Homo sapiens: one gene and its partners. The protein of the gene in region 3 interacts with the protein of the main gene of each other region in a biochemical or structural test. Each region holds a gene or a part of one and is shown on either strand. Other genes may lie near its edges. The genes, in order: PDP1, KLB, FGFR1 and FGF6.

Region 1 (7,412 bases), about 56 Mb from region 3:
ACATATGTGGGCCAGGTGCAGTGGCTTACGCCTGTGATCCCAGTACTTTGGGAGGCTGATGTGGGCAGATCACTTGAGGTCAGGAGTTTGAGACCAGTCTGGCTAACATGGTGAAATCCCGTCTCCACCAAAAATACAAAAGTTAGCCATGTGTGGTGGCACATGCTTGTAGTCCCATCTACTTGGGAGGCTGAGGCAGGATGATTGCTCAAACCCAGGATGCGGAGGCTGCAGTGAGCCGAGATCATGCACTCCAGCCAGGGCGACAGAGCAAGACTGTCTGAAAAAAAAAAAAAGTACATGTATGATTTATATAAATTTCTAGAAGCAAAATTATGGTGAGAGAAGTGGAATGATACTTATGAGGGGAGGGATTAATGGAAAGGGGCATAGGGAATTTTCTGAAGAAAAAGTTTTATATCTTTGTTGGGGTGTTACCAAATGTTACATCGCAAATTTTAAATCTGTGCATTTTGTTTAAATTATACCTCAATTTTGGCCAGGCATGGTGGCTCACACCTGTAATCCAAACACTTTGGGAGGCCGAGGCGGGTGGATCACAAGGTCAGGAGTTGAAGACCAGCCTGGCCAACATGGTGAAACCCCATCTCTACTAAAAATACAAAAATTAGCCAGGTGTGGTGGCCCGCACCTGTAGTCCCAGCTACTTGGGAGGCTGAGGCAGAAGAACTGCTTGAACCCAGGAGGCAGAGGCTGCAGTAAGATGAGATCGCACCACTGCACTCCAGCCTGGGTGACAGAGCGAGACTCCATCTCAAAAAAAAAAGAAAAAAAATTTTACCTCAATTTTTACAAATTTGAAGTACTATGTATCTACTGGGTCCTAAAATTAAATATAATCTACCACACATAGGAAGCATCTAATCAATCTTGTTATTAAAAACCAACACAGGACATTCAGAAAGCAGATATGAAGCTTTAATTCACCATAGGCATTTCTCCAACCATTCTGTACATTAAACTTTCATGTCTTCACACATATACATCTTTTATAAGACAGTTTTCTTAGCAATATGGTACTCTGTACCATACCAACATTCCATTTAACTAGTTAAGGGTGTATTATATAACATGAACCACTGATTAAATATAAATACAGAAGTTGAATACATAGGTTAGAAAGTTTAAATTTTAAAAAAATTTAAGAAAGGCTAAATACCATGAAAGTTTACATGTATTCTTTAATTCTAGACACCGTACAACAGTGACAACCAATTACAATAAAATCACAATTGCTTTTAGATGACAGTACTTTCAGATTTCTAATACCCAATTACTTTCATTTCCACAATGTCAACTTCATGCTGCATTTTCATTTCTATAGAGCAGACAAGCTTCCAGACTGCAGACCAAGTTTCTTGTGTAATAATACTACTATCTTGATCATGACCACAGGAAACCAATTTTATATTCCCTGTACTATAGAGATGAGACATTATTTGGTGTATATGAAACTCTTCAGTGGTGGTGTTCAAGAATATTCAAATAGTAGCTGAAAATAGGGTTTGCTAGAGCAGTCCACATATTTCATTAAAAGAAAAATGCCCAGTCAAAACATTTAGAAATAAATATATAGTACAGCCTTTCCCTCTCCCAAATACTACCCAGGAAAAAAGTTCCAAGCTGACTTAAAAAAAAAAAAACACACAAATAAAAACAAAAACACCTCAAAAAATAAACATTATATGATATTCTGAGCAGCAATCTTCCTGAGTCTATTTTCAATTGAAACAAATTCTGCAGCCAATAGTACACTGATTCAGTATCCACAGTCCAGAAGGAGTTCTTGAACATCTAGTTCATATCCCCAAAAAATGTGAAAAGACTCCTAAACACCCAAGTTATTACACAATGGGAAGCTGATATTGGCTTGTATTAAAATCCAGGTGAATATCAAACATAATCACAGCCTTAACAGTGATGCTAGAATAAGTGATGACAATATGTGCACAGCTGTATACAGATCACTATTAAACACAGGAACAAAATGCCACTTGATGCATATCAAAAAGCCAATTTGAATATATTTATTTCATTTACATTGATACAGTATTAGAAGGGACTGAATATAATTATGGAGACTGCTGCAAACATTTGATGCCACTAAGTATTCTATTAAGCATCAGGCATGCACAGTAGTTACCTTTTAAAGTTTCTCATGTATATATCTTAACACATATATCTTAAGCTACAATATGTTTAAAGCATTTAGTCATTTTAAACCCAAATATTTTAATTGACCTATGTCTAAATGGAGAAAAACAGAAACTTCCTCCTGTCTCAATACCCGATGGCAATATTAAACCTTACTCCCCAAATTGATATTTAAACTTATTTATGTCATCTTTAAAATTCCAAAAATAATGAAAAGTCTTATCATTACTAAATAAGAAGTACGATTCCCCGGCAGCAGTCTACCCACCACACACTTACGGCATGCCAAGCCTTTGGGGATTACATAAGAGTGATGTGCTGGTGGCTACAGATGACAATAATTGAAGAGATCAGTCTCTTCTTTTTATTCTGGATCTCCTTATTTTAAACTAAAGCTTTTCATTAATACAAATAAAAAAATCTTTTTTTCTTTCTTTAACTTCAATAGAAGAGTAGATAAAACTAAAAACCCTTATTGTCTCCAAGTGTGTGGCAAAATAGAAAATCTTTCAATTACATTAGGAAATCGGGTGGATAACGGAGTATAGTTATTCCACTTAAGAAGCATTCCAGTCAAATAATCACAAAAACAAATTCAGATTGCTTGGATCTTGGTCATTTATGGCTTGAAGAACTGGATTTGAAAACCACTTTAGGCTAAAATAAATGTATATGAATAATGCATAGACTGTGTATCTAGAAAATCATGCAATAAATATATGTTCTCATGTACACTGGAATCTCAGTGAAGAAAGGTGTGAACAGTACTGTTTCTTCACTTTAACCAAGAGACTACACACAGCAAGATACTTGCTTTTGGCCTATTCAAGATCTTATTTGCCAGGTCATCCTAATTTTCTCAGGTTGGTAAAAGAAGCTAATGTTTCAAGACACCTGTGATAAAGAAGTGACTTGCTTCAAGTGCAGGTGCCATGAAATCTGAGCTAGGCAGGACCAGACTCTCCTGACCCTGCCACCCTGCTGCAAAGTCAATTTGGAGTACCTGACTAGCTAGAGTATCAAAAGGGTAAATGCTTAGAATGACCAACTGGAAATGTTTATTATAGTAGTATCTTTTTAAAAAATCTGCCCTTTAAATGTATATCATTTGAGAATTGCCAGTGAAAGAGCCACTCACTATTCTTGGTTTTGATACGCCCCTACAACATGAGAATTGAACTGAACTACAATGATTGTAATGTCATCTCTGTACATTCGAGCAAGCTCTTCAGGAAGACTAAGCATTTTAGAGAGGCGCTCATGATCAACAGTCCCAAACTCGTTGTTGCCCACAGCGTGGCGAATGAGATGGGTTGCTGCGTTCTGATCCTCAAATACCGAGGACATTTTGGTTCTCCTTTCTGTTAAAAGGCCATGCATCTGTCCCAGAGTCACCTTGTAGCCACCAACAGCTATTGGCTGTTGGTGATGCATGCCAGTTAGGTACTCACCCACAATCCTAACCACATCCTGCCTATGCATAGTCTCCCACAACCCATCAGTAGCCAACACCAGAAACTTATCCTGTGGCCTTAATCGGTGGTAAGTTACCTCTGGCTCAGCAGTGAGATAAGGAGGTGTGTGATAATTAGGAGGAATAAACTTGGTATATTCATTGTCATTCAACTGGTCTGGGCCAGATTCTATCACTCTCTTTTGAAGGTCAATGCTCCATTTGAACTTTACATCTCCAAATGCCCTAAATGGCATCAGCAAGCCAAGCAGCCGATCCTGTTTCACGACACTCTTGGCCTCACTCTTTGGATGTTCCAATTTCAGCCGTTCTAGTTCTCTTTCATTTTGAGCATTGTGGTCATTAGACAGCGTGACTGCTGACCATGAGCCGTCCTCTTCCTGCACACCCAGCATGGCTCTGCTATCGCCAGTATTGGCCACATGAAGGTCAACACCATCCACATGGGCCACACAAGCAGTGGCTCCAGAAAATGCCACTCGAAGCACCAGGTAGTTGAGAAAAGAATTAGGATCACCAACTTGCGCCTCCAAGGAGATGTCATTATCAAGCCTCTTGAAGGCATTAATTAGAGCCTCCTTAACATCAATATCAGTCGACTCACCAGTGTTGAGGTCTATAAGCTCTTGCCAGTAAGTCCTCAAGCTGTTAAAGTACAATTTGGATGCCTCCTTACTAAAGTAATCATTGGGGTGCTTGTGCCACTGGAGAATGGGTAGCAGTGCCCGGCCGCTCTCCACTGCATTTTCAATCTCTAGCAAAGTCTCATGGGGTAACAAAGAGACAGCAATATAATAAAAGAGTCTTTCACTGACTGCCTGGGAACAAGCACAACCTGCATGGCCATCAAAAACCCCCAAAAGCATCCCTCTGGTCTGCAAGCAGGTTGCTGCACTTCTCCGGTCCTCAATGGGTGCATTTGCAGGCAGCTGATTGCTGTCAAATCCAAGGATAGAACTGACATTTTTGCCGTCAAATTCTGGCACTTTGAAACTGTATTCATTAGCTTTAAGGATGCTATTGACTTGTGGAGGTGTGAGGTAAAATTTCTGTGGTGTGGAAGCATATCTCCTTCCTTGGGTGTACTGCCACCAGTTCTCCTTTGGCCTGCAAAAGGTAGCATATGCTGGATGAGGTGTGTATCTCAGTCGACTCTGAGGAATGTACGATGAGGAACAACAGAGATGTTTGTGGTGGCAGTAACATGCAGTGCCATAGATCCTGCTCAGTTCACAGTTACGGATGAGAGGAAAAAACAGTTGAGTTGGTGCTGGCATGGCATCAGAGAACAGTGGCAGGCTGGAACTTCTGACTGGGATTCCTAGACAGCAAATTAGACAGATGTACACAAAGGAAAGAGTTACATTTCAGGATACTTAATCTAGCTTTGCCTTTATAACAAATATTAAGCAAGTCAATCTACATGTTAAGCCTTTGCTAGAAGGTACTACATTTTATACACACATCATGTACTATTTCTACAGGGTATATTCTGGCAGGCACAACTCCCAATCATTCGTGGAACCACGACTGAACTCCTGGCTCCTATACTCAAACTTCAATTTTCTCTTTTCTTTGTCGTCCTTTGTGCAGTACAAACTGTGCAGAATGTACAACAGATTTGGCTGGGGAAAGCTGAGGAGATGAAGGTTATATAACATTATGCAGTAGCCGTCTACCTGACCAATCATCCTTCTCCCTCCCTATTCTTAAAAAATGCCTTGAAATCTCCCATTTTACACAGGGACTTCTTCCATTTATGAAGACCCTTTACATAGACCTGTGGTCAATTTTTGGCATGATTACACATGGCTATGACCAAAAATGTTAAGAGGCAGCCAAACATATGTGTATTTATGAATTACGTGTACATCATATACATATATGACTACAGTAATATGCATTGTAACATATATAGAAAAATTTCTACATAATTAAATAAAAAAAGAAATTCCAGTATTTCTCTCCTGTACCCCAGTAGATGGTCTTGCAAAACTTGCTTCTCTAGTCCACTGTGGCAATTTGCCAGGCTAACGGGCATAGGTCTGCCACCAACTCCCAAATAATCTTGGAAAAGTCAGCTCACATCTTTGAGTCTCACTCTTCTAACCTGTAAAGGAACATCAACAGAGCAGATGCTATCTAAGGCTCTTCTAGGATTCATGCCTTTATGCTTATGGAAGTGAGGTTTTTAAATAAAATTCAGGTTTCATTTATTCACTGTTGAATTCTACCGTGCCCTTCATGATTAAAAAAAAAAAAAAAGTTTAAGTATTGCAGTAGCTCTAAAGCTTTGTTAGTAACATAAATGGTTTCAGTCCTAGAACTTAATTTACCTACTAACAATGTTCCCTGCTTAGCAGCTATAAGGAAAACCCATAGAAGTATTTTCATCTACTATGGATCCAAAGTAGAATTAACCCCTAGAAAAATGTTTTCTTGGATATGGTAATCACTCTGATTTGATCATTACACAATGTCTACCAATATATACATGCACTGAAACATCACATTGTACCCCATAAATATATAATATTATGTGTCAATTGTAAATTAAAAATAAATTTTAAAAGACCAAAAATGTTTTCTCTCACATTAAAAAAAAAAAAAAAAGGTATTTACTTGCTCCAGGGAAGCAGTATAGTCAAATAATAGTCTAAGGTTTGGATTGAAAAGGTACAGCAATATAATTACAAACTTAAAAAAAATCCTATCACTCACTATGTGCGCTGAAAATAATTTCTGGGCATTTATTTGGGAAATTTAATGAATATATCATTAATCTAGATAATTTGGGCAAGAAAAAAAATCCCTCTTCTTCCTCAATAACATATATTTTCCCTGAATTCTTGAGATACTGCTTCAAAATAGTCATTTGTACTATAAAGAAACACTTTGGAAATACTTTAAATAAACAAATGCAATAAACAAAAAGGAACACAGAAAATAAAACCATCTGAGTTAATAGCAACTATTCCTTCCCACGGCTAAACAAATATCATAGCATGTGTCAGCCATATATTATTTTCATGTACCTTTTTTGAAGAATAATTTGAGAAAAAGTAATAAATTGGGGTAGAGGGAAGCAAAGAAAACTAAACACTGAATAATCACTGATTCTTGTTTGTTTCTGTAATAAGCACTGCATAAGCCAGCCACACAGATTCTCTTCTGCAAGTAGTAGAAAGTACCATCATTTTAACTGCACTATCTAAGAAGGGATTTGTTTACGAAAATGAAGACAAGATCAGGCAATAGAAAGTAATGGCTAAAATTTTGGAAATAAGAATCCGTAACTAAAAAAGCATTCTGAAATGCACTAATGAAAAACAGAAATTCCAGAAAAACGGGAATCCATCAGGAGTAACCATTTAAATAAAAGAAATTCAAACTGAATACCTGAAAGTCATCCAGAGGTTAAGTGTACATGACTGAGCCAGAAGATGTGCTCAAATGTTGGGCCACATGACAGTGGCTTCCATACTTAAACCATATCTCTTTTTAGGTTTGCGTGCAGAAAGCATATCAACTCATTTTGTGCTTTGAATAAAGGTTTTCTATCATTAAAAATGTAAACTAATGTAATCTTAATGAATTTTTCTTCATAATTTTATGACTGCATTTGCTCTTTCTTTAAAACTTAAGAATCTTACAGAAAAAAACAATGAAAATGTGCCTGTATGGAACGTAAACTGACTCAAAATACTATTTGTGTGGGGGGGAGGGAGGGTTGATAGATGCATAACAGGGTTTGATTGTTTAA
Region 2 (8,671 bases), on a different chromosome or scaffold from region 3:
TTTCAACAATTTAGAATATTTTTCTTTATACAAAGGTTAAATAAACATATTCATGCATGTATTTGCATAGAAAACTTTAAAAAGAATGTATAAGAAACTATTAACAGTAGCGTCCTTGGCCTGGGATTGTCAGGTGAAGAGAGGGAGAGGGATTTAACTTTTTCACTTTAGATCCTTTGGTACAATGTGATATTTTTATTTTTTATTTATTATTTTTTTGAGACAGAGTTTCACTCTCGCCCAGGCTGGAGTGCAGTGGCGTGATCTCGGCTCACTGTAACCTCTGCCTCCCGGGTTCAAGGGATTCTCCTGCCTCAGCCTCCCGAGTAACTGGGACTATAGGCACGTGCCACGACGCCCAGTTAATTTTTGTGTTTTCAGTAGAGAGGGTTTCACTATGTTGGCGAGGCTGGTCTCAAACTCCTGATCTTGTGATCCACCTGCCTTGGCCTCCCAAAGTGCTGGGATTACAGGCATGAGGCACTGTGCCCGGCCCAATCTGATATTTTTAAATGTACATGAGCATGAATTGTTTTAAAAATTAAAAGGACTGGCTGAGCGCAGTGGCTCACACCTGTAATCCCAGCACTTTGGGAGGCTGAGGCAGGTGGATCATGAGGTCAGGAGTTGGAGACCAGCCTGGCCAACATAGTGAAACCCCTCTCTACTAAAAACACAAAAATTAACTGGGCTGGTGGCATGTGCCTGTAGTACCAGTTACTCAAGAGGCTGAGGCAGGAGAATTGCTTGAACCTGGGAGGTGGAGATTGCAGTGAGCCAAGACTGCGCCATTGCACTCCAGCCTGGGTGACAGAGTGAGACTTTGTCTCAAAAAAAAAAAAAAAGAAAATTAAAAGGACTAAATGAGAGGAATATTTTTCTAACTTTTGTATGCATAATCTTGATAACTGTTAAATACCTATACAATTTCTACCCTTTAAGGTCTTATTTTGTCAAATCACAGTATACCCACACATTAATATGTTCTATATACAACTCTAGTCAAAGATATGCAAATGACCTTGAAATCATAATGCAATCTGTTTACCTCAAGGGCAGATGTATCTGAAACCATAGTACAATGCACATGTGTAATAATCCAGAAAAGTTCAAAAAGAAAAGAAGTGATAGCAGATATTTTTGTATGTACAAATTTAGACATGGAATTATTTTATGTTGCTGTATTTTTTTTCTACTTCTGTATATTTAGCTTTTGATTATTAATAATTAAATTACTTTTTGTAGCACATTATAAAATTATATTGATAAAGTTTTTTCATTTTTAAAATGTAACAGGTGTGCAGAATAATTTATTTTTCCTAAGTAAACTATTTGACTCAAAAAGTTAAATTCGATTCTAGATATTAGCCTCAATGTGAGGCTAAATCTCTTGCAAATTCCTGAGTCTTCTTTTCAAAGCATTCTTAATGAAGACAGTTAGTGTTAATTATGTTGTCATTTAAAAAATCCATGTCCACAACAGCTGTATTTTACTCCTTAACCTTGGGAAAATTATTTAATCTCATTAAGCTTCAGTTTCCTCATCTTTTAAATGGGAAGAATAATAAAACTAGTTCAAAAGGCTGTTAAGAGGATCAACTGTAACGATGCATGTAAAATACTTAATGTAGTCTGTGGTACATAATAAGTACTCAGTAATTATTACCTATTATTTTGCTTGTATTTTCACTATTGTTTTACTAATTTTAACATTTCTCAACATTATCTCTAGCTTTTGAAATATATTGCTTGAAAATTGCTTTAGTAGAGCACATTCTTCCCAGTTCTTATGGGAAGAAATGTGTTTAGCTCCCATAACAATTAATCTTCTCTTTTTTGCTATGTAACACAAATAAAATCAAAAGTGAAGTATATTTAAATTTCTGTATTTAATATGCATGAGTTAGCTAACATTTATTTGGCTTACTTATTTACTTACTTTATTTACTTATTAGCTAAGTTAGCTATACTTAACAACAAATACATATTTGAAATGGTTGTGCCTTAAGATAATTCTGAAATGATTGCATGTTGTCAGAAAAGGGTTCCAACAATTAAATTTATGAAGCACTGTTTTCCCACAGAATGAAAGTAAGCTCATATATTCACACTGTAGTGTATAATGGTAGATTTAAAAATAGCCTCAAAGTGCAACTTTTGAAAAAACTAATTGGATTAATACATTAAAAATACCTTAGATAAATAAAACATACACTAACTTAAATGCAAAATTTGAGGATAGATCTTTTGAATTAGCTTAAAATCAGTTGCCTTGATTTCAGTGAAGAGAATTACTGAGGCAGAAGGTAAATTCTTAAATTCTTAGTGTTTTCTGAAGCTATAAGAAGAAGCTAGCTGTACAGTACCTTGATCAAGTTGTGTCCCACAGTGTAGACAGCTGCTAAATTTCCCTTCTCTCCAGGGGCATGCATACCTGTCCCATACCCATGCCAAGCCACTAGATATGGGTTGTGAATTGTAATCCAATATTTGACACGGTCCCCAAACATCTGGAAACAGTATGTGGCATAGTCATTGAAGATATCTATTATGGTATCATTTTTCCACCCCCCATATTTTTCTTGTAGTGCCAAAGGCAAATCCCAGTGGTATAAAGTAACTATAGGTTCAATGTTTCTAAGCACTAGAGCGTCCAGAAGAGTACTGTAGTACTGCAGACCTTTTGCGTTGGCAACTGTTACTATTCCATCGGGGAAAAGCCTTGGCCAGGAAATTGAAAATTGATAAAAAGAAACTCCTATAAAATCCAGGGCTGATAAGTCTTTTTCCAGAAAAATATAACTGTCACTGGAACCATTCGTGCTGCTGACATTTTTAAGGTGTGTGTGGATGAAATGATCCCATATAGAAGGTCCTTTTCCATCCTTCTTCCAACTCCCTTCCACTTGCAATGCTCCAGTCCCAATACCCCAGAAAAAGTTTTTAGGGAAAGTGTCATAGAGAAACAGCTGACTTTCATTTACCGGAGTAAAATTAGGATTTTTAGACCATATAGCTCTTCCATCTCCAGAGAATCCAGTAACAGCTCGTAGCAGAATAAGTGCTGACAGGATGACAGATCTTTGCAATCCCCCGTTGGACATTGTATTCCTATAGCGTGTGGTTATTTCATCAGTGCTGAAGAAAATCCATTCATTCCCTGGAGATCCTGCCGCACAGCCTGGCTTCATTTGCCACCAACTGCTGGACTGTCTTATCAAAGCTTCAGTAAAAGCTTGTGATTGTAAAGCTCTGTCAATGATTAGCTTGAACTGGGAGACTGAGGATGGGTCATAGAGAGCAACGTAATTTGAGGGAGGTGGCCCTATTGCAGTCACCAACGCGTCTCCTTCTCTCTCATTATGGAAAAAATTAGATGAAAATGCATCGGTGACAAGAGTTTGAATGTGTAACTAACACATATGTAAACACTGGATTAAAATCACATTATTTTCCGTGTAGCCTTTCATATTGACCCAAATCTTTTCTGAATGTTTTGAACATTATTGAATAAGGTATATAGCTTTTCTATTTTTAGAGTTTTTGTGTGGTAATTTTATAATCTCATATATCAAGAAAAATAACATATACAAGTATATAGCATTCCTACATACCAATAGTAAAGAATTAGAAAACACAATAAGAAATTACACTTCTCCACAAAATTATAACGCATCTAAGAACAATCTTAATAAATGTTACCTATTTTAGGAAAATTGCAAAAATGTATTGGTAGATTTGAGAGAAGACTTGAATGAGAAAATATAGCACTTTGTGGATGGAAAAATGAAATACTTTTCAATTTAATACATTTAACTTAACTAAAATCCTCTAATCTCTAATTTTATTTTTTATTTTATTTATTTAACTTAACTAAAATTCTCTAATCTCTAATTTTTTAATTAATTAATTAATTTTTAATAAGAGTCTTGCTTTGTAGCCTAGGCTGGAGTGCAGTGGTGTCATCACAGCTCACCGCAGCCTCAACTTCCCAGGCTTAAGCAATCCTCCCTCCTCAGCCTCCAAGTAGCTGGGACAACAGGCACATGCCACCATGCCCAGCTGATTTTTGATTTTTTGGTAGAGGTGGGGTCTAGCTATGTCCCCCAGGCTGGTCCTGAACTCCTGGGCTCAAACAGCCCTTCTGCCTCGGCCTCCTAAAGTGCTTGGGATTATAGGTGTGAGCCACCATGCCTGGCCTAATCCCAAATTTTAGTTCAAGAAAATTATTACGAAAGGCCAGGCACAGTGATTCATGGCTATAATCCCACCACTTTGGGAGGCCAAGGCAGGCAGATCACTTGGGGTCAGGAGTTTGAGACCAGCCTAGCCAACATGTTGAAACCCCGTCTCTATTAAAAATACAATTAGCTGGGCACGGTGGTGGGCACCTGTAATCCCAGCTACCTGGGAGGCTGAGGCAGGAGAATCTCTTGAACCTGGGACGTGGAGGTTGTAGTGAGCTGAGATCGCACCACCGCACTCCAGCCTGGGCAACAGAGCAAGACTCGGTCTCAAAATAAAAAAAAAAAAAAAAAGAGAAAATTATTATGAAAGTTCCCTTGAAGAATAGGCAATATTTATTTTTAAAAAGGAAAGAAAAACCTGAAAAAGAAAATAGCAAAGGCATAGACTACCTTCAGCATGATTCTGGAATAAAGATAAACATACAGAAAGAAATACATGCACATACAGAAAGAAATATTGTACCAAATCGATAGCCTCCAAATAACCTGTAAAAAATTTAATGTTTTACAGCCTGGGGAACATAATAAGGCCCCATCTCTACAAAAAAAATTAAAAACTAACCGGGTGTGGTTGTGCATGCCTGTAGTCCCAGCACTTTAGAAGGCCAAGGTGGGAGGATTGCTTTGAGCCCAAGAGGTCAAGACTGTAGTGAGCCATGATTGCACCACTGCACTCCAGCCTGGGTGACAGAATGAGACTCTGTCTCAAAAAATAATAAATAAATAAATAAATAAATGTTTTAAATATTTGAAGTATCACATATGAATGAGAAGCAGAGTGGTTAATAGTTTGGTCTCTGTGCCAGATGAGGTGGCTCACACCTATAATCCCAGCTACTTAGGAGGCTAAGTGGGGAGGACTGCTTGAGGCCAGGAGTTTTGAGACCAGCCTGGGCAATATAGTGAGACTATCCTCACCTCTAAAAAAAGATGATTGAGGCCCGGCACAGTGGTTCGCACCTGTAATCCCAGCACTTTGGGAGTCCGAGGCGGCTGGATCACCTGAGATCAGGAGTTCGAGACCAGCCTGACCAACATGGTGAAACCCCATCTCTACTAAAAATACAAAATTAGCTGGGCATGGTGGCACATGCCTGTAATCCCAGTTACTCGGGAGGCTGAGGCAGAAGAATTGCCTGATCCCGGGAGGTGGAGGTTGCAGTGAGCCGAGATCGCGCCATTGCACTCCAGCCTAGGCAACAAGAGCAAAACTCTGTCTAAAAAAAAAAAAAAAAAAAAAAAAAAAAAAAAAAAAAAAAGAGAGATTGAGCCTCTAGAGGCAGACTGCCTGAGTTTAAATATAGCTGTGTAACTTGCCCTCAGTTTCCTCTTTAAGAAAAGGCATAATAATAATATGCACTTCATGGATTATTGTGAGAATTAAACGAGTTAATACACTGAACCAAATGGTTTTCTCTGGAATATAGAAACGAATGAGCCAGTACATGTAAGGCACTTGGAACAGAGACTGACACATAGTAAGTTATGTGCTAATATTATTTTTGTGTGAAAGGGAAAGATTATTCAGGACATGATGCCAGGATTTAGCATAAAAGACAATTTGTTCTGGCTCCTGCCCACATTTTTAGCTTCACTTCTCTCAGTTGACTAAGGGGTACACAGCCTGCTAACTTGTAGCCCTGTACCTTGGTATGTGTGCTCTCTGCACAGAGTATGTTTCTCCCTTCATCTAGCTCATGTCTATCTTTTTTTTTTTTTTTTTTTGAGACGGAGTCTCACTCTGTCTGCCAGGCTGGAGTGCAGTGGCGGGATCTCGGCTCACTGCAAGCTCCGCCTCCCAGGTTCACTCCATTCTCCTGCCTCAGCCTCCTGAGTAGCTGGGACTACCGGCGCCCGCCACCACGCCTGGCTAGTTTTTTGTATTTTTAGTAGAGACGGGGTTTCACCGTGTTAGCCAGGATGGTCTCGATCTCCTAACCTCGTGATCCGACCGTCTCGGCCTCCCAAAGTGCTGGGATTACAGGCGTGAGCCACAGCGCCCGGCCGTCTTTTTTTTTTTTTTTTTTTTTTTAACTTTTAAGTTCAGGGACACGTGCAAGTTTGTTACATACGTAAACTTGTGTTATGGGTGTTTGCTGTATGGATTATTTCAGCAGGCAGGTATTAAGCCTAGTACTCATTAGTTTTTTTTTCCTGATCCTCTCCTTCTTCCGACCCTCCACCCTCTGATAGGCCCCAGTGTGTTATTTCCCTCTATGTGTCCAGGTGTTCTCATCATTTAGCTCCCACTTATAAGTGAGAACCTGCGGTATTTGGTCTTCTGTTCCTGCATTAGTAAGGCCTTTCTGACTCCCTATGACTCCCTAGCCTGATTGGATTTAGATGGATCTTCTGTTTTCCCATGGCAGCCCATGTTTTCTCTATTATGACACACAATAAATCAGCTAACCACACAATAAATGTATCTGTATCCTCTGTTTGAGTGTAAGTTTTCTCTCTCTCTCTCTGTTTCTCTCTCTCTCTCTCTTTTTTAAAAACCAAAACAGGGACCATGATTGGTTCCCTGTTGATTGTCTGTGGCCCAGCATGGTACTTGACATATAGCAGTCACTAAAGTATTTACTGAATGAATGAGAGTATCTATAGTAGGCTGGGCATGAGGGCCCACACCTGTAATCCCTGCACTTTGGGAGGCTGAGGCAGGAGGATCGCTTGAGTTCAGGTGTTCAAGACTAGCCTGGGCAACATAGTGAGAATTCATCTCTACTAAGAAAAAAAAAGTAGCTATAGTAGACTATGTATACCTCTATCACTGCATTTATCACATAATCCTGGAGTTGTTTGTCTCCTCCACCACACTGTAAGAATATCTCCTATCTAAATGTTTATAATTGCTTATCAGAGTAAATGATTAATAATTATCTATTGAATGAATGGAGTTGGTACATTACTATTTATGAAAATAAAATTTTAAATGCAATATCTTAGATCCTCACAAATATATTTAATTCAAAAATGTATAACCACAGAAATGGTTAAGATGGTACATTTCATATTACTTGATTTTACCACAATTTAAAAAATATAGCCACAGAAAATTAAAGAAAACAGAAGTAAATATTAAATTATGTAAATGTGTAGATTATATATATTATTCTATTTACATATGATGATATATAAATAATTTATAATTAAAATATAAAAAATAAAATTTAAAGGCAAATAACAAACTTGGAAAATGTCAAAGCAAATCTAGAAGGCAAATGGCCAAAGTAAGGCAAATGGCCATAAGTAATTCATGCAAATCAACAAGAAAGCCACTAAATCTCTAACAGATAAATGGCCAAACAACATGAATTTAAAAATACACAAAAGAGGAAATGCAACTAGTGAAAAATGTGGCTAATAAAAAATTAAACCATGAGTAATTAGAAACATACATAAAAAGAGGTATATAATATTTAATCTTTTTTTTTTTTTTTTTTGAGATGGAGTCTTGATCTGTCACCCAGGCTGGAGTGCAGTGGCACGATCTAGGCTCACTGCAACCTCTACCTCCCAGGTTCAAGTGATTCTCCTGCCTCAGCCTCCCGAGTAGCTGGGATTACAGGTGTCTGCCACCACTCCCGGCTAAGTTTTGTATTTTTAGTAGAGACAGGGTTTCACCATGTTGGCCAGGCTGGTCTCGAACTCCTGACCTCAGGTGATCTGCCTGCCTTGGCCTCCCAAAGTGCTGGGATTACAGGCATGAGCCACCGTGCCTGGTCAATATTTTATCTTATAAAATTAGCAAAAATAAAAATGATAAGTGATGAAAACCAGTGTTGATTAGATTGTTGATTGCAATGTAAGTTTGCACAATACTCATGAAAAGTATATATGTGTGTGTATGTATATATATATATATATATATATATTTTTTTTTTTTTTTTTTTTTTTTTTTTAAAGATAGAGTGTTGCTCTGTCGCCCAGGCTGGAATGCAGTGACGTGATCTCAGCTCACTTCAACCTCTGGCTCCTGGGTTCAACCAATTCTCCTGCCTCAGCCTCTCAAGTAGCTGGGATTATTTAAACGCATACCATCACAGTTGGCTATTTTTGTTTGTTTGTTTTTGAGACAGAGTCTCGCTCTGTCACCCAGGCTGGAATGCAGTGACGTGATCTCGGCTCACTGCAACCTCCACCTCCCAGGTTCAAGTGATTCTCCTGCCTCAGGAGAATTGTTATATTTTTAGTAGAGATGGGATTTCACTGTGTTGGCCAGGCTGGTTTTGAACACCTGACCTCAAGTGATCCACCTGCTTCAGCCCCCCAAAGTACTGGGATTACAAGCCTGAGCCACTGTGTCCGACCACATGGAAAGTAATTTTCCAATATACCATGAACCTAAAATTTTTTGATTCAAGAATTTCTGAAATATATTGTAATGAATTGTTTCTAAATATATAAAGTCCTCCATGCAA
Region 3 (6,759 bases):
GCTGGTCTTGAACTCCCGACCTCAGGTGATCTGCCTGCCTCAGCCTCCCAAAGTGCTGGGATTACAGACATGCGCCACCATGCCTGGCCACTTTAGGCATTCTCTAAAAACCCAACTACAGTGATGCTAGATGTGTCCTGGGTCTTACACACAATTCTGCTACAATAGAGAGGTGGTGGCCACTGACACTTAGGGCCTTGCACCTGTGTCATGTCTAATTCTAAAATCATCCCAAAACGAGCCACATCAGTGCTGCCCAGTTTTTCTGTAATGCCAAATCTAGGCTAAAGATTTCCCACTCACCACCAGCACACACTAGCAGGTAGTAGTTGGACCAATGTGACTTGAGAGCGGACTGGTGCTTCACCTAATGCCAACTGAAACTTCAGCTCGCTGGCTCCACCCAGTGGTGGCGAATAAGCACAGCAACCTCATTAACAATGAGACAGATTTCTTGCCTCATTTGATGCTCAATCTTACTTACCTGAGATCAATACATTACATTAGCAGGGCCAAGGGACCGATGATCTCCAGCCTATGGCAATTAGAAGAGACGGAAAGGCAGTATTGATTAATGCTGTGGTGATCCCAGCCCTAATCTTTTAACCCTCAGGAAACCAGACAGACTCAGTGCCTTCATGGCACAACATCTTCATTAGATAAACTGGATTCCTTTCCTCAGGAGACCCAATTTGGTCCTCTAAGTAAAACGGCCATTTCATTTTCTCTCAGGTCAATTTCACTGTCTTTTATTTGACAGCTAGCGCAGTCTTTGGGGAAATTTGTGGGTGATTTGAGTAGTAACAGCAAGGACATCACTGTAATTATGATAGTGCCTTATATTTTTCTAGCACCTCTCCCAAGGACTTATGAAGACTTTTAGATTCTTCATCCCTTCACACAACATTGCTTCAAGGTAGGGCCAAGGCAGAAATTATCATCACTGTTTTACAAGGAAAGACACTCCTGTGCGGTCTCAAAGCAAATGCTTTTAAGAGCTAAAAATTCATTTCCTAGTTCTGTTCACCAAATGATGCCTTCTTTAAACATAAATACAAATTGTAATGTTAGCAGGTGCTATTTACAGAGAGAAACAAAGAGAATTTTACAATAGTCGCCAACACTGCAGCTGCCAAAAAATCCCTAGCTCAGAAATTTAAAGCAGCAATCCCATTTTCCCTACAGAAATGAAAACATATTGAACTTTCTTTTGTATTTAGCAGTAATCCAGCAAAATATAAGCTTTAATATAGCGACTGAGGAGTGGTAGTTTGAGCCATGAGGTACGGGGGAGCCAGAATCCACTTAGTGAGGACAGTGATGACCAGCAGGTGGCAGAAGTAAATTCCAAGCAGCCAAAAAACCAAAAACATTCGGAGAATTTTCCCCCCGTTCCTGAGGGACAGGATGGAGTTTGGACAGGAAGAACTGTAAGAAGCCAAGATCTGCGACAGTCCCAACAAATACAGTCTGGTCACATGGATACAGGAAGGACGATCTGGGGAGGCATACCAACAAGAAACGAAGCCAGGGACCTGAATGCAAAACTAGCCTCAGGTGACATGTTCTCCTGCACTTAGAAGCACTGGCAAAACCATGCCCACATAGAGGGGGCAGACACATGTCTGGGTTTCAGTTTCTGCAGACCTTCATCATTTGTTTTCCTTTTTGTTTTCTCTGTTGCCCAGGCTGGAGTGCAATGGCGCAATCTCGGCTCACTGCAACCTCCGCCTCCCAGCTTCAAGGGATTCTGCCTCAGCCTCCTGTGGAGCTGGGATTACAGGCGTGTGCCACCATGCCTGGATAATTTTTGCATTTTTAGTAGAGATGGGGTTTCACTAAGTTGGCCAGGCTGGTCTCAAACTCCTGACCTGAAGTGATCTGCCCACCTCGGTGTCCCAAAGTGCTGGGATTACAGGCGTGAGCAACCGCGCCCTTGCTTTCCTCTTAATCACTGTAGCTCTACCCCGTGGCTATTCCTAGGTAGGTGCCCCCTCCCCAGCCCAACCCCACCGGTTTCCTTGGAGGAAACCATCCATGGTCGATGGCTGCTGGGCCTTGACTCTCTGCCCAGCGCCTCTACTGCATGGATGGGGTTCCTGCCCTCGAAGCAGACATCTTCTTTTTCTGACTTTCCAAAAGCAGCGGAGAGGCAGGAGGTGCGTCGTGAGGTCTGGGTGCAGGACCTAGGAAGAAGAGGTTACAAGGAACCTGCGCCGGGAGCATGCGGTGCCCTCGGGACAGACCTAGCCCCAGGGCCCGTGGGTGTCCCTTCTTTCCAGTGGACATTCCCACCCTTTTCATACAGCCCATAGATAAATGAAGCAGCAGCAATTTTTATTGAGGGACCTAAACTGAAAATAGGTTTAGAACATAATTTAAAAAAATAAAACAGCAAAAGTAGCAAAAAATATATGACCTTTTTAAAAACATTTTCCTTTTTTTTCTTTTTTGTTTTTAATATATAGCAACTGATGCCTCCCAGCCACCAGGAGCATCTTACCCGATGGGTAAATCTCTGGTAACGACCCTTTTAAAAAGACATGTAAATATATACTCAGATTTATACACTTTGTGTTTTCTTCATAGCTATATACAGAGCCCCCAGTTTGGGGCTGGGCCCCAGGGCCACAACACTGCCCCCAACCTGGCCTTCGCCTCACCATCCTCTGGTACCAGGCATTTGGTCAGCAAAGCAAACTAGTATCGGAATTAATAAGCCACTGGCACCACCTATCTGGGGCAGAGGTCACCTTCAATCGAGGCACGAAGCACTGACCTCCCTACTGCTGTAGCCCTGAGGACAAGGCACCTGCCACCAGAGTGCGAGGGGCTTATGGGTGAAGGCAAAACAGACCAAACCGACAGGAGAAAGCTCAGGAAGCTCTCACTTGCATGCCTGTTCATTGGCTCCCACTCCCTGCCCTCCAGGCAGTGCCTGGTGGCAGGGAGGGGTGTTGGTCCAACATCTGGGAGGGGATGAAGTGGCTGGCAGCAAAGATCTGCCTCTTTGCACCTCTCACCAGCAGGTGGAGAGGAGGTGGAGGGAGAGGTGAGCTGAGTGGGGTGAAGGCAGGCCACACAGGAAGGCCCCTGGTAGGCAGCCGGCTCCTGCCAGCAGGAAAGGGGACAGGGACGGACAGGTGGTGGGCCCAGCAGGGGCTGTGGGTGAGGGTTACAGCTGACGGTGGAGTCTGGGGAGGGCGTGTGGGTGGCAGTCAGCGGCGTTTGAGTCCGCCATTGGCAAGCTGGGCTGGGTGTCGGGGCAGGCAGGGCTCCTCGGGCAGCGGCTCATGAGAGAAGACGGAATCCTCCCCTGAGGAGCACGTAGAGCTCCGGGTGTCGGGAAAGCTGGGGGAGTACTGGTCCAGGGGCATGGACAGGTCCAGGTACTCCTGTGATGGGCGAGAGGAAGCAGCGATGGGCCGGGCCCCTCCTCCCTGCTCAGGGAGGTGCGTGCACGCAGTGGGGACGGCCTGAGCTCTGGCTCTGGCACGGGCAGCCTTACCTGGTTGGAGGTCAAGGCCACGATGCGGTCCAGGTCTTCCACCAGCTGCTTGAAGGTGGGTCTCTGTGAGGGCACTGCATGCCAGCAGTCCCGCATCATCATGTACCTGCGGCAGGACTGTAAGGTCAGGGACGTCTCCTGGAGATGGATACTCTCTAGTCTAGCCCCCTGCCCCTCAAGCCCACTCTTGCCCCAAGGCCTGGCTCAGGGCCTCCGACATCTCCTCGGGCTTACAGCTCGTTGGTGCAGTTACTGGGCTTGTCCATGCGGTGACCCTCCTTCAGCAGCTTGAAAAGTTCCTCCACAGGCACACCGGGGTATGGGGAGCCGCCCAGAGTGAAGATCTCCCACAGGAGCACCCCGAAAGACCACCTGCAAATGGGCGGAGAGCCACAGGGTGTTAGAGCTTCTCCGCCTCCCCTCCCCCAGCACAAATCCTCTACCCAGGGCAGTGCCAGGAGACAGCATGGAGAACAGATCAGCCTTTCAACATCTGGAGCAGAGGGAATGGCCACAGACAATGTTTTGTTTTTCTCTCTGGGGCAGAAAGAGGACTCCTCAGTCCAGGGAGAAAGCAGGACTCTACAGTGCTAGAAGCTCTCTATCCCACACCTCCCTGGCAATTGCTATTACAAACTCACACATCACTCTGGTGGGTGTAGATCCGGTCAAATAATGCCTCGGGTGCCATCCACTTCACAGGCAGTCGGCCCTGAAAGCAGCACAGGGGAGGTTGGAGTGGCCCCAGGCAGGGCCATGAGGGCACAGGTGGGAAGGGACTGGGGGGTGGGTTCTCAGCCCACCCCACTCCTTGCTTCTCAGATGAAACCACCAGCACAGGGCGGCCTTGTCGGCACTCACGTTGGTTGTCTTTTTATAGTAGTCGATGTGGTGAATGTCCCGTGCGAGGCCAAAGTCTGCTATCTTCATCACATTGTCCTCTGTCACCAGGACATTCCTGGCTGCCAGGTCTCGGTGTATGCACTGAGGAAGGAGGAAGGGAGAGCGGGAGGCGGGGAGGTGAGGGAGCTGGAAGGCTCTGGGCGGCCGCCACCCATGCAACTAGCCGACTTGTCTCATAGAACTTCTGCCACACTGCTCTGCCCCCCGAACCTTTGCTTTCCCTCTTCTAACATTCTCTGCCAGCTCCAGGCTTCTCATCACAGCAAGCGCTCCTCCCTTCCTTCCCCAAAGACTGGCCCCTTATGCCTCTGCTGCGTCTGCAGCGATGCATGCTCCTAGGTCCTGCCTCCCAGCACAGCAAGTCCACATGGGGCTGGGCTCAAACCAGGCCAGCCCTTACACACCAAACACTGCACTCAACACTCACAGACAGTTTCATTTTATCTTCATAACAATTCTACAACAGGTATTGTTATACTTTATTTTCTTTTGAGACAGGGCCTTGCTCTGTCGCCCCGGCTGGGGTGCAGTGGTGTGATCATGGCTCAGTGCAGCCTCAAACTCTTGGGCTCAAGCTAGCCTCCCACCTCAGCCTCCCGAGTAGCTGGGACTATCGGCACGCACTACCACACCCAGCTAATTTTTTAATTTTTTTTTTTTTTTTAAAGACGGGGTTTCAATATATTGCCCAACCTGGTCTCACACTCCTGAGCTCAAGCAATCCTCCCGCCTTGGCCACTGCACCCAGCTGATATTATTATTATTTTGTATTTGAAGAATTTTAAGATGCTAAGTAGCTGCCTGAGGCTACGCAGAAAGTGGCAGTGCACAGATCGGACCCTGCATCAGTCTGACCCCAAGGCCACCTGGCTACACTGGTGCTCCTGACTCTGCAGTTCCCAGAGAGCCTAAGACAACACACAGGGCACACAGGGCCAGTGCTCAGTGCATCCACAACGCCACCACAAGATGATAAGTCACAGGCTGGAAGACTAGGGGGGCTCTGTTCCCACCCTGGCATTACCCAGGGGAGCCTTCAGGTTCCACACCTTCTTGGAGGCCAGATACTCCATGCCTCGGGCCACCTGGTAGGCGCAGGACACCAGGTCCTTGGAGGAGAGCTGCTCCTCTGGGTTGTGGCTGGGGTTGTAGCAGTATTCCAGCCCTGGGGGCCTCCGGGCCTGCAGGTACTCCCGCAGGTTGCCCTTGGAGGCATACTCCACGATGACATACAAGGGACCTGCAGGCACAGGAGAAGAGGCCATGGGGCCAGCAGCAGGTGAGCAGGTTTGGCTTCACCTCAAAGAAACCCCACCCCCAGCAGCACACCCCGGCCAACCTCCCATCTCCTGCCTCCTCTTAGGGGACCTGGGAAATCCATTCTACTACCCAAAAAAAATCAGAGAAATAATTACTCCCAGCATAGTCCAGAAAATTCCCGAGCAACATTGGGGTAAGAGCCCCAGTTTGTCTGTTTATTTTGAGATGGAGTCTCACTCTGTTGCCCAGGCTGGAGTGCAGTGGCGCAATTTCGGCTCACTGCAACCTCTGCCTTCTGGATTCAAGTGATTCTCCTGCCTCAGCCTCCCAAGCAGCTGGGATTACAGGCATGAACAATGCCTGGCTAATTTTTTTTTTTTTTTTTTTTTTTTTTGAGATGGAGTTTTGCTCGTTGCCCAAGCTGGAGTGCAATGGCGCGATCTCGGCTAACCGCAACCTCCGCCTCCCGTGTTCAAACGATTCTCCTGCCACAGCCTCCCGAGTAGCTGGAATTACAGGCATGCGCCACCACGCCCGGCTACTTTTTGTATTTTTAGTAGAGATGGGGTTTCACCTGTTGGCCAGGCTGGTCTCCAACTCCTGACCTCAAGTGATCCACCCGCCTCACCCTCCCAAGGTGCTGGGATTACAGGCGTGAGCCACTGTGCCTGGCCTATTTATTTATTTTATTTTTGAGACAGCGGGAGTATCTCCCAAGCTGGAGTACAATGGCGTGATCTTGGCTCACTGCAACCTCCACCTCCCGGGTTCAAGCAAGTCTTATGCGTCAGCCTCCTGAGTAGCTGGGATTATAGGCATGCGTGACCATGCCTGGCTAACTTTTGTATTTTTTAGTAGAGATGGGGTTTCACCATTTTGACCAGACTGGTCTCGAACTCCTGATCTCAAGTGATCTTCCTGCCTCGGCCTCCCAAATTGCTGGGATTACAGGCATGAGCCACTGCACCCAGCCTGAGCGCTCTTAGACCATAATTACTCAGCTGCCTCTGTTAACACACCACGTGTGTGAATCTAGGTATCTGTATTCCTGAATGAACACCAATGAGCGGAGCCCAGATCCCGAGATA
Region 4 (8,186 bases), on a different chromosome or scaffold from region 3:
CCTCTGCCCCTTTGCAGATTCAGCTGAGATGTGTGGCCGTGGTGGTCAGCCAGCCCTGAGGCGCTGCTTTCTTGGCAGTTGGCTGAGCCTCTAGACTTGCATCTATGGCTGGAGCATAGTAAGGAGGGGGAAGGGAAGAGCATGAGTGAGACAGAGAAGAAAGACAGCGCTAGGAGATAGGAAGTCATGCTGAGAGACACAGCCACATGGGGCTCAGATTGAAGGGATAGATCAAGAAGCACTTTAACGCAAGAAGATGACTGCTAGTGTGGAGAGGAGAATCTTTCTCCCAGAAAACTCTGCAAATACTTGGTGACCAACCAGACCACAAAGCTGCGTGTTCAGGGGCTCCTTCCCTCCCCATTGTAGGGGTCTCTGGGAGTGGGGCAGGGTCTCCAGTCTGAACTCAAGCCAGGATTCAGACACATATAGACAATGCAGATAGGCCGGCCCCAGCAGAAGTGTATTTGTCTGAGGGGTTGAGGGGCCTCCAGAAAAATAATCCACATGGAAGGAAATGGGAATCCCACCTGATCAGCTTAACCCATAACAAGACTGAGTCCTTTGCAGGGCAAGGAGTCTGAAAAGAACTTCAAATCAGCAGATTGCCAGGGCATGAGTAGTACTGGCCAGGTATTTCCTTAATAGGTATAACATGAAGACGGGGACTAAGGTATTCTTCCTGGCTTTGAAACAGAACATAAAGCAGTTCTGGCTCCTTGAGGGCTTCAGGTGCTGAGCTATAGTGAGAAAGGGAACACCCCCGGGCTGCCCAGCAGGAGGTGGAAAGGCTGGAGAACAGGGAGATCCACGCAGGTGCCTGGCAATGTGCCCAGGCAGAAGCAGTCACATGCTCGTGAACATATGTGAGACATGCTCTGAAACTGCAGAAATATCTTGGGGGTGGTTTGTAGTGGGGTGAAGTTCCACATGAGTTGGAAGAAGCAAGAACTAGGGAAATGTGGATTATAACTGTTAATGGCTCCCACTGTGTAAGTGGGTGAGGCCTGGGAAAAGTTGAGTTCTACTAGGAAAGTACAAAGTTTAGGTTTCCCCAGGGAATAGCTAGCAAGATAATGGCTGCCTTGTCTTTGCGGAAGTCCAACCTGGACACTGTTGATCAGTTGAAACTGTTTCTCTTGAATTCTCCCTCATGTAGCAAGTTTATGAGCTGCAAATGTCCCTCTTTGCTCAGGCCTAGGGCAGGAATCCTTCCTCGATCCTCATCTCTACACATGTCCATCTCATGCCGATTAAATCCTGTGAGCAATCTCTACCACTAAAAAAACCAGGGATAGGTGCAGAGCTGCCTGTCTGAGCAAGATGGGGAGGAGATACAGGGAGGCTTCAAGGCCGCTGTGCCAAGCTCACACAAAGACAGACTTTGAGACAAAAGAGACAAAGACACTAAGCACAAACAGCTATTTTGTTTTCCACCTTATCATTTTCCACATTTTCCAAATTATCTATAGAAAAAGGCAAATGCTAGTTTTTCAAAACCAAATGTAAAAAGTACAAGTAAGCACAGCTTTTCACAATCTACGTGGATGAGGCTCATCTGAGTTTTATGTGCTTTCCCTTTTGGTCACCCATCAGGCATTTGATCCTGATTATGTAACACACAGCAGTCACAGAGAGCAACCACCTGATGTGACGGAGGGAGTTCTGCCATGCAGATGATGCGGAAGGTTGGTGTGGCTAAGCATTGCCAAATCTGACAAATCTGTATTTTGTGGTATCCCCCTTGGGGACAAGGACCCTGTTGTGGGAGGAGATAGACATTAACGTATTTTCCCACTCACCTCCACTGGATCTTGGCTCATCCAGCGAGAGTGATTGACAATCCCCAAAGGCTGTTGGCCAACTATTTGCAAGAGGGGTCCATGGAGAGAGGCCTCTTCCACCTGTTACTCTTTTCTCTATCACTTCACATCCATAGGGGTCCCTAAGCCCCAAGAGAAGGGTCAAGTGCAAATCTGGTAAGCCAAGAAGACCTAGCAGTTGTCAACCTAATTAGCCTTCAGGAAAAATATATGGCTATATGAGCACAGTAAAGTTGCTATAGAGACAGGCAGGGGAGGTACATTCAGAACAGGGCCTCATCGCATCACCCGATAAAAATAAGACCCAGGCTTTTTAATAGCATGAATTACTTAAGTTTTAAATTTAACAGGGGACGACACCAAGGCTCTCACTGGTTTTCAGAACATTTGAGGAATCTGGGCTGCCTGCTTCTGCATATGTTAGCAGCCATCACAACATATGCTGTGGCGGATGGCAATGAAGAACTGGAAGCCCACGTGTCTCTCCCACACCGTGAGATGAGAGATGGTCTTTCTCACTTTGGGTTTGTCCTCTTTAATTGGGTGAGAGATTTTCAATGTGTTTCAGGGAAATTTCTGGGAAATAGCTATACTGCGCTCTGCACTGGCCAGTTGTATGTATTATTGCTAGTCACTGTAACAACCTTAGGAAGTAATGATATCATTTTGCAGATGACAAAATAAGCTCAGAGAGGTCCAGAACTTTCCTAAGGTCACACAGCTACTAAATGGTGGAGTTGAGATTCAAATCCAGGTGTCCCCATTCCAAAGCCCATTGCTTTATGAGACATCAACCAGAACCTCTGCACAGAGAGGAATCCAGGAAGAGATGAATCTAAGGAGCGTTACCATTTTTATTGGTATATGACATGGACCTTGTTATAGTTTAATCTCTCTCCTAAGGCAGTCCCAAAGTGGATGGGTTCCAAGAAATTCCACAGAGATTCTGAGCTCTGCTGGTGAGCACCTCTCCGATTATCCAAGGCAAGTGTTAACTTCAGACTGACTTCTCCTTACCATCCAACATGTTTCTGGACTGTCTCTTCCCTAAGTGAGGACCACCAGCATAATTAACACAAGATTCCAAACAACATCACTGAGAAAGTGTCCCCACTGCTCTTGCATCCATGAAAGCTTAACTATATGAAACCCAGCTGGAAATCCAAAGTGAAGTTCTTTTTGTTGACAACTTTGTCTTCGGATTATTCATGAACCTTTTACTTTGCAGAAGGATTTTTAAAAACAGTTTTCCAACAAAGGCCTACATAGTAGACTCAATCTGAGCCTATAAGGCATCATCTTTCCTCATGGGAAATGGCAGTGCTGGTGATGATGAGATTGGGTATGGGACAACGGCAGTGGAAGGGAGAGGAAGCCAATGGGGAAGTCAGGGGGCCGTGGTGACAGTAGGAACAAGTGGTGCCTATGTCCCTCCCCATTCAGTTTACCAGCTGAGGGTAAAGACAGACATCTGGGCTTCACAGGATTTCAGAAGGCATGTCTAGGGCAACACTAAACACATGGCTTGACAGAAATTTGAACCAAAGCATCGAACCCAGTGAACGAGGCAGAAGGGCAGAGAGAAGGCAGGTAGAAGCCACAGACCAGAGGCTGGGACCCAGGGCACAGCAGAAGGTTTAGAATCAGAGGGAAGGCGGTGGTGCCTCAGTAGAGTCCTTGGGCCATGGAACTCACCCCAGGAGCTTTTCCAGGCTGCCTGCAGCCTGCAATGTGGGTGTAGAGTGTGGCTAAGGGAGCTGCCTGCTGGGACCAGCTCTACTGCTCAGGACACTCAAATCCATCTGTATGCCACTGTCATCACCCCACACATACTCTCTCCAATCCCGGCAAAATCAGTGCTAATGTCTCACCAACAGATTAAGGCCTGGATTGAAGTACAAGAAACAGGATTTTTAACTCAAGTTAATTCAATTCCCCAGCGACCCTTGTTAACTTATTCACCCTCAGAGACGTATTAATAGTTCTGTCTTATATTGTATAGAAATTTGTGCAGTGAGTTTTCTGGTAGCTTTACATTTTTTTTCTCACTTCAGTTAGACATGTAATCTATTTAAAAGTAATATGGGAATAAGATAAATCAGTGTAGGAATAACTTCCTGGCAGAAATATTTTTACTAGTTTCTGAGTGTAATATCAGCCCAGCAAAAGTTATCTGCAAATATAGAAGTTCTCATGTACATCAAAGACACTCAAGTTTTTTTTAAGAAATAAATCATTTTATGCTACTGAAATAACTCTGTGATGTGCTATTGGCATTTAAGGAGCTAAACAGACTCTATGGGCCAGCCAACTTCTACTGCAAGCATTAGACATGCACAGGCTTTAGACTCAGGCACACCTTAGAAGTTCTGGCTTTGCTACTTATTAGCTATGGTAACTCGGGCAGGTCATTTATCCTCTCTAAGCCTCAACTTCCTCATCTGTGAAATGGGAATAATATCAGTCACATGCCAGGGATAAATCCAGGGAGAATGGCCAGGGGGCTGTGTCAAAGGCCAGACACAACTTCCACCCCAGGTGAATGTCGGGACCAGGACAGTGAGCAGGCAAACCTTGCCCTTGCCCTCCTTCCCTCCACAATCTTAAAGCTCCTTGAACAACCCCCATCCCCACCCCCTGAGAATGTCTGTGCCCTCCTGCTGAAAGGGTTTGGCCTTTCAGTGTTCCCCTCCACCATGAGCTGTTTCCATGAAAAGATCTCAAGGGTGACTTGAGGCTACGGTCATCACTACCACAAGCCTTTTCCCATCCCTGCCTCTACCTATTGCCCTCTAAATAAGGAAGCCAGCGCTGCCAGGCAAAGAACTTCTGCCCAATATGGGTCCTGGGTGGCCTCTCGCCTCTCTCTTTCCCTGGGCCCCCAGCCAGCTCCCCCCTCCCCCAGAGATGCTCCCTGCTCACTTCATTCCTGCCTCATAGTTGGAATGACAGTGGCTCCCAGAACCCCTGGGGAGTGTGGAGGGTGATGGGGGTCTGGGGAGGCAGCCAGGCCCAAGAGCAGGTTAATGTTACAGCCCTGGATAAGTGAGCTGGGCGGGTTGACGTCAGGGCGATGATGGGTGGAGGGGAGGGCCGGGCTGCTGAAGCAACTATAAAGATAGGTCAAATCAAATATCATCAACTAGGGACGGAGCAAGCGGGCGAGCTAGAGAGCGTCCCCGAGCCATGGTCTCTACCGGCCGCGGCTCAGCCTGGGTCCCTCTGCTCTCAACCCGAGTGCCCGATGGAGGCTTTGGTTTCATGTCAGCAGCCTTCATCTGCCTTCCAAAAATAAGCCCCTGCCGCCATGCCGGAGGGAGAAAAACAAGAAGGGCGGTATTTTTAGGGCCATTAATTCTGACCACGTGCCTGAGAGGCAAGGTGGATGGCCCTGGGACAGAAACTGTTCATCACTATGTCCCGGGGAGCAGGACGTCTGCAGGGCACGCTGTGGGCTCTCGTCTTCCTAGGCATCCTAGTGGGCATGGTGGTGCCCTCGCCTGCAGGCACCCGTGCCAACAACACGCTGCTGGACTCGAGGGGCTGGGGCACCCTGCTGTCCAGGTCTCGCGCCGGGCTAGCTGGAGAGATTGCCGGGGTGAACTGGGAAAGTGGCTATTTGGTGGGGATCAAGCGGCAGCGGAGGCTCTACTGCAACGTGGGCATCGGCTTTCACCTCCAGGTGCTCCCCGACGGCCGGATCAGCGGGACCCACGAGGAGAACCCCTACAGTGAGTGCCAGCTGCAGCCAGTCGGGACGCTTGGGGGTTTGGGCTCATGCAGGGCTAAAAGGTGAAGGGGCCCTGCTCTAGCGGACAGGATGCACGATAAAGGGGGCAGAAATGCTGCTCACCACTTAGATGATTCCACGTGACCCTGCCTGGGTGCAAGCTCAATATACTGCGGTCCAAGCATCCTGGTGTTCTTTGCCATCGCCTTGGTTAGATCCTCAGTGGCACTAACTATTTCAGCATTACTGGCCCATCTGATGCCTTGTAAGACCATTAGGAACCATTAGTCTGGGAAGCCCCCAAGGCCTGGGTAGGGAGAATCAGTTAGTATACTTGGATCAAATTTGACACAAGCTCATTTTTATTCAGCTTCTTTCTTGGAGAAGGAAGGGAAATTCAATTGCAAAATGTCCAACTGAAGCACATCCTTCTTTTTATTTCAGCGGCTCCCTCTGTCCCCAGGTTCTTATCCTGCAAGCTGCCTGCAAGCTGCCAGCTTGCTGTATGGTTAGTCTCCTATCCAAGAAAGGATGGGGGCTGCAGGATCCAAGAAAGCCATCAGCTATGGTGTGGCTGCTGTGTTTTCAAGATTAAGTGGGTTGAGATTTGTTGAAACATGTAGAGTACACATTAAGAAGAAGAAGAAGAATCAGAATTTATTTTTTTACTCAAGTCAAGGACCTCAAGTAATTATGTCACTGAAAGCCCAGATTCAAAGCTCATCTTAAACAGATAGCTAAGTGGTCACTGCAGCCCCTAACTCTGCTATCAGAACCTTCCCTTGCAGAACTGGATTTCTAACAGCACAATGGCAGCACTCGATGAGTCCAGCAGCCAGGGTCTCCTAGAGTTAGAGGGATCATGGATGGGGCAATGGAGAGTCTGGCTTTCTAGGAGAAGGGGGATGGACTGAGATGCCCTTGTCGGCTCAAGTTCCCACTCTGATTTGCACAAGCCTTAGGTAATGTGGCCCCCCTTTCCTTGTCAGGCCTGCTGGAAATTTCCACTGTGGAGCGAGGCGTGGTGAGTCTCTTTGGAGTGAGAAGTGCCCTCTTCGTTGCCATGAACAGTAAAGGAAGATTGTACGCAACGGTGAGTTCACCAGGCCGGGGAAGTGCCAGGTTTACAAGGCTTGATGCTTACACAGTTGAAGAAAATAATATGAAGTCCTGAGTAGAGAAGTGACTATCTAAATGGGAAAGGAAAGGCTGTGAGAGGAGCCTGTGAAAGGGAGGGGCCTTGCAGCTTGTGCTTCTTCAGCCTCACGGGTGATTGTCCTCTGCCCTGGCCCGTGCTTCTTCTGTTCCCACCTGCCGGCCGGAGCCCGTGTGCTTAAACGGAAACCACAGCTCAGGGAGCCCGTGGGCCAGAGGGAAACCCACATTCTGGCATCCAGGCTTGTGAGCAGGTGTGATTCCCTGCACTGGCGAGGCCCCGAGAGCAAGTCTGTCTCTCTGCCTGGGTGCGCTGCTCCATGACACGCGCCCTGCAAGATGCCCCAGCCTCGTGCGCAGCAGGAGGAGTGGAATGGGAGGCTATTTTCATCCTCATCAGTGTGCTGAGATTCTGCACTAGGGTTTTCAATCCTCTGGTCTCCGATCACGTACGCTAGAGAAGCAGCCTACCCGTTATACACTTTAGGCTGGTACCAGTCCCACCCATTCCCATCCCCACCCCCATAGGTCACCTCTGGGAGTGCCAATGCTGGCACTTGGGTTAATGCAACCAGCTTCTAAGCACATTGACGAAAACCTCTGCTCTCACTGACCTACTCTTTCCTGCAGCCCTCGGCCCATCATTTGGCTTATTCCAAAATATGGCGGGGCAAACATCCCGATGAGGCTGAAGAAATGGAGAGTTCCTTTGACAGAAATAAGCAAGCTAAAAAGGAAGACCTCAGAGCAGGCCTCAAAAAATATCAAAGTTATTTATGGGGAGGGTGTGGAGAGCTGATCTACTGCCCCTTGGAGGATAAACTGAGGACTGGGATGTGAAGAAATAGATCCAGGACTGGCACTGGGTCCCAGGGGAGCTGTCCCAACAGAGGAGGTCTATGAAATACAAGAACGGGTTCACCAGGTGGCCTCCACCCCATAATCTTTAGTGCTAACATCTCTCAGTCTGGGTTGGTTTATGTGGACATACGGCATGCACTACAATCAGTGGGTCTCCCACACGGGTCTGTGGACAGTTTGCATCTCTGTCACCTTGGAAACTTATTAAAAGTATGGATTTCCAGGTACCTACCTAGGAGATTCTTATTCAGCAGAGCTGGCGTGTGGGCCTGGAAATCCATTTGTTTTTGTATTTTAAATTTGCCAGGTGTTTCTGAGGAACAGGCAGGCTTGGGGGTCAGCAGGCTACATGGCCTCTGGAGGGCAGGGGACCACCCACTCCCCATGTTACACTGAACCTGAAAGCTGGAGGGCGAGTGAGATGAGACAGAAGAGACATATCCTTGTTACCGCTCTCTGGGAAAGTGATGGCGAGGACAGGAAGAGGCCTGGGACCAACCCAGGTTTTGATGGAGCAGGTTTCCCCTCTGTAGGGTGGGGCATCCCAAAGAACCCCTTCTTCCCAGCCTGCATAATGCCCGGAAGCCCATAGGGTCGGGAGAGCCGGGAATTTAGGC

What was found.
Region 1: the proteins of FGFR1 (region 3) and PDP1 form a complex in vitro, tested with the Homo sapiens proteins (one study listed by BioGRID).
Region 2: the proteins of FGFR1 (region 3) and KLB interact in a biophysical measurement, tested with the Homo sapiens proteins (one study listed by IntAct).
Region 4: the proteins of FGFR1 (region 3) and FGF6 interact in a biophysical measurement, tested with the Homo sapiens proteins (2 studies listed by BioGRID and IntAct, with this or other methods).

The regions. Positions count from the first base shown.
Region 1 is NC_000008.11:93,919,574-93,926,985, reverse strand, and holds the end of PDP1 (pyruvate dehyrogenase phosphatase catalytic subunit 1), read right to left. Parts: intron 5,760-7,412; exon of another isoform or gene 5,623-5,759; intron 4,971-5,622; coding exon of another isoform or gene 4,927-4,970; coding exon 3,313-4,926; 3' UTR 918-3,312; downstream 1-917. UniProt on the Homo sapiens protein: Mitochondrial enzyme that catalyzes the dephosphorylation and concomitant reactivation of the alpha subunit of the E1 component of the pyruvate dehydrogenase complex (PDC), thereby stimulating the conversion of pyruvate into acetyl-CoA.
Region 2 is NC_000004.12:39,401,470-39,410,140, reverse strand, and holds the start of KLB (beta-klotho), read right to left. Parts: upstream 3,212-8,671; 5' UTR 3,192-3,211; coding exon 2,367-3,191; intron 1-2,366.
Region 3 is NC_000008.11:38,410,410-38,417,168, forward strand, and holds the end of FGFR1 (fibroblast growth factor receptor 1 isoform 1 precursor), read right to left. Parts: intron 5,652-6,759; coding exon 5,461-5,651; intron 4,493-5,460; coding exon 4,370-4,492; intron 4,221-4,369; coding exon 4,150-4,220; intron 3,881-4,149; coding exon 3,743-3,880; intron 3,615-3,742; coding exon 3,509-3,614; intron 3,396-3,508; coding exon 3,219-3,395; 3' UTR 2,187-3,218; coding exon of another isoform or gene 1,980-2,186; 3' UTR 734-1,979; downstream 1-733. UniProt on the Homo sapiens protein: Tyrosine-protein kinase that acts as a cell-surface receptor for fibroblast growth factors and plays an essential role in the regulation of embryonic development, cell proliferation, differentiation and migration.
Region 4 is NC_000012.12:4,442,593-4,450,778, reverse strand, and holds the start of FGF6 (fibroblast growth factor 6 precursor), read left to right. Parts: upstream 1-4,963; 5' UTR 4,964-5,208; coding exon 5,209-5,554; intron 5,555-6,542; coding exon 6,543-6,646; intron 6,647-8,186. UniProt on the Homo sapiens protein: Plays an important role in the regulation of cell proliferation, cell differentiation, angiogenesis and myogenesis, and is required for normal muscle regeneration.